Regions from separate parts of the Homo sapiens genome. Here region 2 is linked to region 1. A link means that fine-mapping ties the variant in region 1 to the expression of a gene that starts in the linked region. Tissue or cell type: whole blood. Region 1 holds a variant in brackets; the other region holds the start of a gene. All regions are shown on one strand. Distances are between the middles of the regions.

The links. PIP is the estimated chance that this variant, and not a neighbour inherited with it, causes the effect.
Region 2: DCHS1 starts here. The variant in region 1 is fine-mapped to the expression of DCHS1 in whole blood (TOPMed, PIP above 0.99).

The regions. Positions count from the first base shown.
Region 1 is chr11:6,632,343-6,636,342 of GRCh38, forward strand. It overlaps DCHS1 (dachsous cadherin-related 1), which reads right to left. Exons shown (of 21, transcript NM_003737.4): 3 at 1,776-1,964; 4 at 1,447-1,678; 5 at 1,070-1,306; 6 at 1-714. Among named protein-coding and RNA genes, the nearest start is that of TPP1, 15 kb to the left of the region's middle. The variant G/A (reference allele first, on the strand shown) is at 1,860.
Region 2 is chr11:6,653,985-6,657,984 of GRCh38, forward strand. DCHS1 (dachsous cadherin-related 1) reads right to left here and starts at 1,825. Exons shown (of 21, transcript NM_003737.4): 1 at 1,579-1,825.

The sequences.
Region 1 (4,000 bases):
GCACCCATAGCCACCCACTCTGTGGCTCCAGGCCAAAGGGGCTACTTGCTCCCTCTGCTGCAAGGTGATAGGTGATAGGGCCCCCATCTGGTGCTTGGGCCTGCACTTGCAGGACCTGAGTTCCAGCAGTGGTGCCTGAGGGCAGGTCCACACGGTAGGTAGGGCTGTTGAATCGGGGAGCCAGCCCACGGGTTCCCACATCCTGTACCACCACCCGTAGTCGAAAGTGGCTGGTGCGTGGTGGGGAGCCCCCATCCCGGGCCTCCAGCTCCAGCTCATGGGCTGGCCCTCCTGAGGGCCCCAGAGGCCTCATAAGCCGTACATGGCCTGTGGTGGGGTCCACGGTGAAGGCTCCACCACCCCCAGCAAGCAGGGTAAAGGTGACTCGACTGTTAACACCTGAGTCGGGGTCAAGAGCCCGCAGTGTATAGATGGGAGTCCCTGGGGCAGTGTTTGGTGGTAGCAATACCGTGTCTTCAGGTGCAGGAAAGGCAGGGGAGTTGTCATTCACATCATCCAGCAGCACACGCACCCGAGCTACAGCGAAAGCTGGGGGCACTCCACTGCCTGCTCGCACCTCCAGCTCCAACACTGGTCCCAGTAGCTCCCGGTCCAGAGGGCGAAGTGTTTGCAACAGTCCTGATACCGCATCTAGGGAGAAGAGTCCTCGGGGATCCCCACCTGATAGGGAAAGGGTCACAGGTGCCAAGCGACCTAGGGAGGATGAAAAAGGGATCAGGAAAGAGATGGAGGGGCACTTATTGAGTCAGGACCCAGAGTCTGATCCCGAGAAGGACTGGGCAGTGCCCACACCCATGCCTTTCAAAATATTAGGAGGAGGGGCAGGGGTTGGCAAAGAAGTTGGTTGGCACGCACTGAGGTGACATTCCTATGCCTCATGAAGCAGTGTGCCTGCACTGTGCCTAAGGAGGTGTTGGGCATTGGTACAGGAGTGTTTTATACTGGGGCTATCTGCCCTGTGATACTCTAAGGTATCTTCGGATGGTGCTGGAGGGTTATACTGGGGTATTTGGGTCTGACACCAAGTGGGTATAAAGCTAAATGATACCTGGTGGGTTGTGTGCCTGGACTATGCCCACACTGGTGCCTGGTGCCACATCCTCTGGCACAGAAAAAACATACTGTAGTTGCTCAAATATGGGTGGTGTGGGGGTTCCAGGCACAATGCTGATGTCCACTCGGGCACTGGGTTCTGCCTGTAGGCCACCTCCGTCCTCAGCCCCGATCTCCAGCTGCACCACAGAATTGGCCCGTCTGGCCAAGGGCCAGGCTACTGTCAACAGCCCTGAGAGGAAGAATAGAAGCAGAGATATATAAGGAAACATAATAGGGCTAGAAAGGTTATGGAGGAGGTGGGTAGGACATCATTTAGGCAGGTGGGGAGGGGGACCTGGGGGAAGGCCCCGGGAATGGGAGGATCCTCACCTGATTGCTCATCCAAGGTAAAAAGTGGGGGGCTGTTGCCAGCCAGGATATGGTAGGAGAGTCGCCCATGGGATCCCTGGTCAGGGTCATGGGCACGCAACCTCAGCACAGCTGTGCCTGGTGGACTCTGGGCACTTATACTGGCAGCATACTCCCGTGGATAAAACTGAGGAGGGTTGTCATTCTCGTCTGACAGAAACACCTTCACATATACCATGGACTTGAGGCCTCCCTGGTGGGACATGCAGCCATAGGTCAGGTGGGCCTCATCTGGCCCTGGTGAGTGCCCTACCCCAACATCCCAACCTGCCCTTGGTCTACTGACTTACCCCATCCACAGCTGTCACTGTGAAGTCAAAGCTTGAGGGCCCCTGGTCACGGTCCAGGGTCCGGGTTGTGCACACATCACCGCT[G/A]TGGGCATCAATGCGGAATGGGGGAGATCCGGAGGACCCAAGTCCAGCACCCAAGGAATAGGAGAGGAGGCCAAATGGGCCACTATCCGCGTCTGTGGCTGTCACCTAGGGAGAGGCTGGGGTGAGTGGTGTCCCCTCTTCTTTGCCAGAAAAGCCAGAGGTAGGTGGCCATTAGAATGAACAACTGGTGCTAAGTCTCTGGATGGCGGACACACAGAGAGGACTAGTAGGACATGGGCCCAAACCCAACCTCAGCCTGTACCTCACCATTTAGTTAGGTTCCTAAGTGCCTCTAGCCATAACATTTTTTGTCAGCTGGTCAATACATAACCTTGTTTGATGTGTGTTTCTGTTTAAAGACATCTTATGTTTAATATACATTGTTCATTCATTAACATTGAACTCACAGCCAACAGCACTGTAACTCATGCCTGAATAAAGCTTATCTAACATATGTATTTTCTCCATACAACACATCACAGCCTTCTTGTACTGAGGAACATTAGACCACACTTCAGCACTACACTTGGGGACCATTTAAACAGTGAAATCATCAGCTTTTTGCACTAAAAAAATGAAAAAAAAAAGTTGCAGTAAATAGACCTGAAAGGGACATTTGTTTACAAGCATGAGAGCCCAAATGAGAAGGCAGAACATCGTCTTGTTCACCCTGTGCTGGGAATGTGAACATTAGGTAACTCAAATTTTTCATCTCTCTGCCCATGTCCAGGAATGCTAGTATTGATTTTGGAGTTACAAATAAATTTTCGAGATTAAGTGAATTCACAAATAATGAGGACCAACTGTACTTAGAAAGAAGAAAGGGCTGTGACCTCAAATTCCAGGTGGGTCCAGGAAGTTAATACCCTCACCAAGTCTCATAATCACCCCAAACCAAGAACTCACCGACAGTGGAATTATTGAGACTGATTTATAGGTTTGATCTTTATTGAGTTTGATTATTACAGAGTGGGATCTGATTAATACTGGGATCTGATCACTATAGGGTCTGTTCTATAGATTTATGGGTGTGTGGCTCATGCATCGTTAGCCTAGTACAGTGCAAGGTACATAGTAGGTGCTTTATGTGTATTTTTTCACCGAGTAAATCGACGGTCTGATCATCCTGCTTTGTAACAAAACCTTCTTTCACACTAAGTTTTATACATTGGGTACACATTAGGCCCTCAATAGTGGGTTAGCTGGTGCTGACAACTGTAGCCTGTGACAAAGCGCTCTTTGTGGATATAAGGACCTCAGGGTCAGGATATGCTGCAAGAGGAAGCTGGAGAGTTCCCCTTTCTCAGCCAGAAAATGTGCTTAGAGAGAAAGCTGGCCAAGGACTTCTGATTGTGGCCCAGACCCTTGACAGAAATGATCTGTGCCATTGTTTACCCTCCTGAGAGACACCAAGACCCTGCCATGGCTGAACCCTGGAAACAGCTTCTGCTCCAACTCTCTACTGTGGCTGTGGGCCCGGATATCCCAGGAGACAGACTTCCCCTACATCAATCCTGGCAGGCAGCAGCACAGCTGCGGCACCATCTCCAGAAGCTGTTAACGACCTTTGCCCTCTGACTCGCTGCAGGAAGAAAGCAATAAACAGTGGTCTGGGGAAGTTGTCAGGAAGTGACCCCAAAAGGCACAGGGGCCACTGACTGGAAATGAGCAAGGCAGAAGTGAATTTCCTGGCCTGTACAACCCCTGCTCAGAGGTTTCACTGCAAATACAGTCTCCATTTTCAGCAGATTCTCAGCTCAGCGTCTCAGTCCGACCTTGGTCGGCTCCCTCTCCCATTCTGCCCCAAAGCCATAATAAACTTCATCCCTCTTCTCTTGCCCCCATCCCATCCCTTGCTCTCATCAGATGCACTATTTCAAGGAGAAAAGAAAGACACTTATCTGTGAACTCTCTAAACTTCTTACTAGCCTCGAAACTTACTCCATATGCCTATCCCAACCTCTTTTCCAGGTGTACCTCCTGCTTTGACTTTTCAAAACATAAATTATTTATTTATTTAATTTATTTTTGAGACAGGCTCTCTGTTGCCCAGTCTGGGGTGCAGTGGTGTGATCCTAGCTCACTGCAACTTCGAACTCCTGGGCTCAAGCAATCCTCCTGCCTTAGCCTCCGGAACAACT
Region 2 (4,000 bases), 22 kb after region 1:
GAGGGAGGAAGGTAACAGGAGCTAAGGAGGTCAAGAATCTGTGAAGCTGTGGTGTTGAAGGACACTGAGAAACCATGGCAGGATACACTATCCAGATCTCGAAGTTTTCAGGGAACAAGAGGGTATACCTGGGAGATCTACGTATGAGAAGGGGTGAAGGTGTGAGCTTGATAAGTTAAGCAGAGTTTATTCAGAAGTTGGGACAGGTCTTCCTGTGGTGTGCATGCCATCCATGACTGTCTCCTGGGGGTTGTACAAGTGGCTGTGTGGTAAGGGCAACTGTGGCACAGCCTCCTGTTAGTGACAGGCTTCTAGGACACCCACTATGTATGGGCAGCTCCAAGGAAGTAAACCTAATAAGATGTGCTGTGACAGTTGTGACAGTGCTTCTGATGGATGTGGATTGCAGTGACAATGTCTCCTGAGAGGTGCTGGTCTACTTGTTTGTTGCTGGTGACAGTGTTTCTGGAGAGTGTTAGCAGTAACAATGTCTTCCATGGTATGTGTTGGCCTTGACAATGAACCGGTGGGAGTATGTTGGTTGCAGCATTTCTCCTGTGGGTGTGTGTTGTCATGAGAGCATTTTCCGTAGGTGTGTGTTGGCTTGATAGAGTCTGCTGTAGGTGTGTGTTGGTTCTGACTGGGGGTGCTTCCTGGGGGTGGGCTTCCTGGAAGTGTATGATGGCTGTGAGGGTATCTCTTGAGGATGTGTGTTCCCTGGGACTGTGTCCTCTTGTGGGTTGAGTAGGGCTATGACTGTGTCCCTATGGGTATTTGAGAAGTTGACATAAGCGACAATATTTTTCTGGCCTATGACCTTGTGGCTGTGGGCCCAGCCCGCCACACTGAGTTCATTGTGCTTCTAGACCTCCCTCTCCCCACCCCCTCCACGTGGGACCCACGCCTGCGGTGACCTTGCTCTGTCCCCTGCACGGGATTCTGAGCTGGGTATCCCAGACACAAACTCCCAGTTGCTCCAATCTCCCACTCAGAACACGTCTGGGTGACCCCCCCCTCCATCCACTTCAGGCTGTGCCTGCCTCTCCTCTGCTTCTCTGTACTTCTCCCCACTCAGTTTCTTTGTCTCTGTCTCAGTTGGTCTCTGTCACACACCCATCCTCCACATTCTGACACATGGGCTCCCACAGAGCGGGCAACACACCCTCACAGGGACTCGCTCACCATGACACACGGTCATTCTGACCCTCACACCCTCAGAGTGACACGCACATGCACACACAGCCAGAGAGACGCCCAGGGACACACAACCTCCCAGTGACACGCACTGACACACTCCGACGATGCACTGGAACACAACGCTGTCGCACCCCACACCCCCGGCGCACGCTCCCGCCGCCACCCTCCCCGACTCGATGACACACGCACACAAAGACCCCCAGGCCCTGCCCCCACGCTCACGTTCACGCCCGCCCGGGTCCCGCAGGCCCAGGCCCCCCCTCCCCCATTGTCTCCGGCTCAGAACAAAGCCCCCGGCTCCGCCGCCGCTGCCGCAGCCCAGGGGAGGCCGGCGGGCAGGGCGGGCGCGGCCAGACGGGCCGGGCGGGCGCGGGCACTGACCTCCGCGCGACGCGGGCTCCCTCGCCCGGTGCTGGGGCGCCGTCCGGCCGCGGTCAGCCCCCCGGGCAGCGCCCGCTCGCGCGGGGCCTGAGGCCGCGCATCGTCCGCAGTCGCTGTCTCCGAGGCCCGCGATCCCCTCCGGGCAGCCGCCGTCGGTCCGCGCGCCCTTGGCCGTCGATCGGTCCGTCCGCTGACGCCCGGGCGCCGCCTCCTGCACAGCCGCCCCGCCGAGGATGCGAGCTCCGCTGCCGCGGCCCCGCGCCCCCTCCCCTCCCCTCCCCCCGCCCTCCGCGCGGTAACCCGAGCCCCCGCCCCTCCGCCCGCGGAGCCCCCGCCCCCGCCCCCACCCGCGCTCCGCGCCGCCGCCCCCCCTTCCCCCCGGCGCCCGCCCGGCCTCCCTCCGCCCCTCCACTTCCCGGCCCCAGGCCCCGGCTCCGGATCCGGCCCCAGCGCCGCGCCGCGCCCCCGTCCCGGTTCCCTTCCCTTCTCCCCGTCACTTCTCCCGTCCTCTCCTCCCATTCGGTTCTCTACGCCCTCTCGTCTCTTCCCCTTCTCGCCGCTCCCTGCTGCTCACCTCCTCCTCTTCCATCTTCTTTCCATCCCCTATTCCCCTCTTCTCCCTCAGTGCCCTGGTCTCCCTCTCGCCCCTTCTTTTTCCCAACCGTCATCTCCATTCCCCTCTGCCTTTCTCCCATCCTCTTCTTCTCGCCCCATCTCCATCATTTTCTCCCCAGCTCTTCTCCCCTTTCTCTTCTCCTTACCCCTTCTGCTTGATCTCTCTCCAGCCTCTTTACATCAGATTCTCCTTCCCCACCTCTCCTTTTATCCTTTTCTTCCTATCCCTTTCTCCCCGTCTCTTCTCCCCACCTTTCTCCCCATCCCCTTCTCCCTGTGTCTTTCGCCTCACCTCATCATCCCCTTTTCCTCACGCCTTCTCCTCATTCCCTTTTCTCACCCCTGCCCTTTTCACTACCCGCTGTCTCTTCCCCTTCTTCCATCGTAACCTCGGCCTTCTCCCCTGTTAGTCACTTTTCATTATCCCATGATTTCTGTCTCTTTTCTCTCCTTCACCCCCAGGCTCCCTTTCCCCCACTTTCTCTTTATCCCAAATTTGAGGGTAGAGATCGGGAGATATTGGAAAGAAGAGCTTTGGGGATGGTGGTCCCACTCACGATATACTCCCTAGAAAAATTAAGTGAGGAGGAAACCGGGCAGGGAAGTGGGAAGGGGCTCAAAAAACCAACTTGGGAGAGAATATGGGGAGAGGGGAAATCAGACAGAGACAAAGAGCAAGCAATCTTAAAGGAACTGGGAAGAGTTCTGACTCCTGTCCTTCTTCCTTAGGACTGCGAGTAGACTGTGAGAAAAACAGGTTTTCTGGACTTGAGATGTGTACAAATGGCACAAAGAAATCAGGAACTTCTGTGGAGAAGGAACACAGTTTCAGCTGAAGAAGAAGGGAGTGTGATTTTGGAAGAGGAGTGAGGGAGAGACTGGGGTCCTTGATCATATCCACGGCGCTTGGGCAGCTGGGTGGATGGATGGTGGTGAGGCTGGCTGTGCTCCACAAAAGGAGCAGCAGGAGGCTGCAGGGGGTTCGTATGAGGAGATGATGACTGTGACTTGGGGCTGCTGACTTTGAAGTGCTGGTTGGGTAGGTAGGTCTGCAACTTAGAGGAGCGGTCTGGGATGGACATAAATATTTGGGAGTCATCTGCAAATGCCGTATAAGCTTGAATATAGGGTGAAGTTTTTGCTTTTTTGTTTTTCCAAAATCATCCCTCAGGAAAGAGGGAGTAACCTTATATTTGAGTCCTTACAAGGTCTCTCATATTACAGGGTTTGCTCTCATTTACTTTATTTTGAACAACAAACCACTGGATAGGGCAGTATGGTATGGTGACTAAGCTTGTGGACTCTGGAGCCAGACTCCCTGGCTCGGGGTCCAGACTCTCCTATTTACAAGCTGTGTGGCACTGGGAAAGTTACTTAACTTGTCTCTGCCTCAGTTTTCTCATCTATAAAGTGGGCCTAAGGATTAAATTATGTAATATATATAAAGCACTATATACCTGGCACTATATGGTAAGTGTCCAATAAATGCTAACTATTTTTACTGTTTGGCTAAGACCCATTGACCTGAAATGTCCTCAACAATGCTATTTTGGATGTATTGTAGTCAAAGAAATTTAACACAGCTTTGGTAACTATTCCTGGTAGTATGACCTCATAATCGCATGTGTTGGATGTCTCAAAATATGCTTTTTAAAGATTGCTTTAAAAAGCAATACAGTAGTACTTGGAAGAGGTTTCTGGGCTGCCGAAAATGTTCTATTTCTTGACCTGAGTGGTTATATGGACCTGAGGGATGTTTCACTCTGACAGTTCATTGAGCTGAATATTTATGATGGCTTGTGGCCTT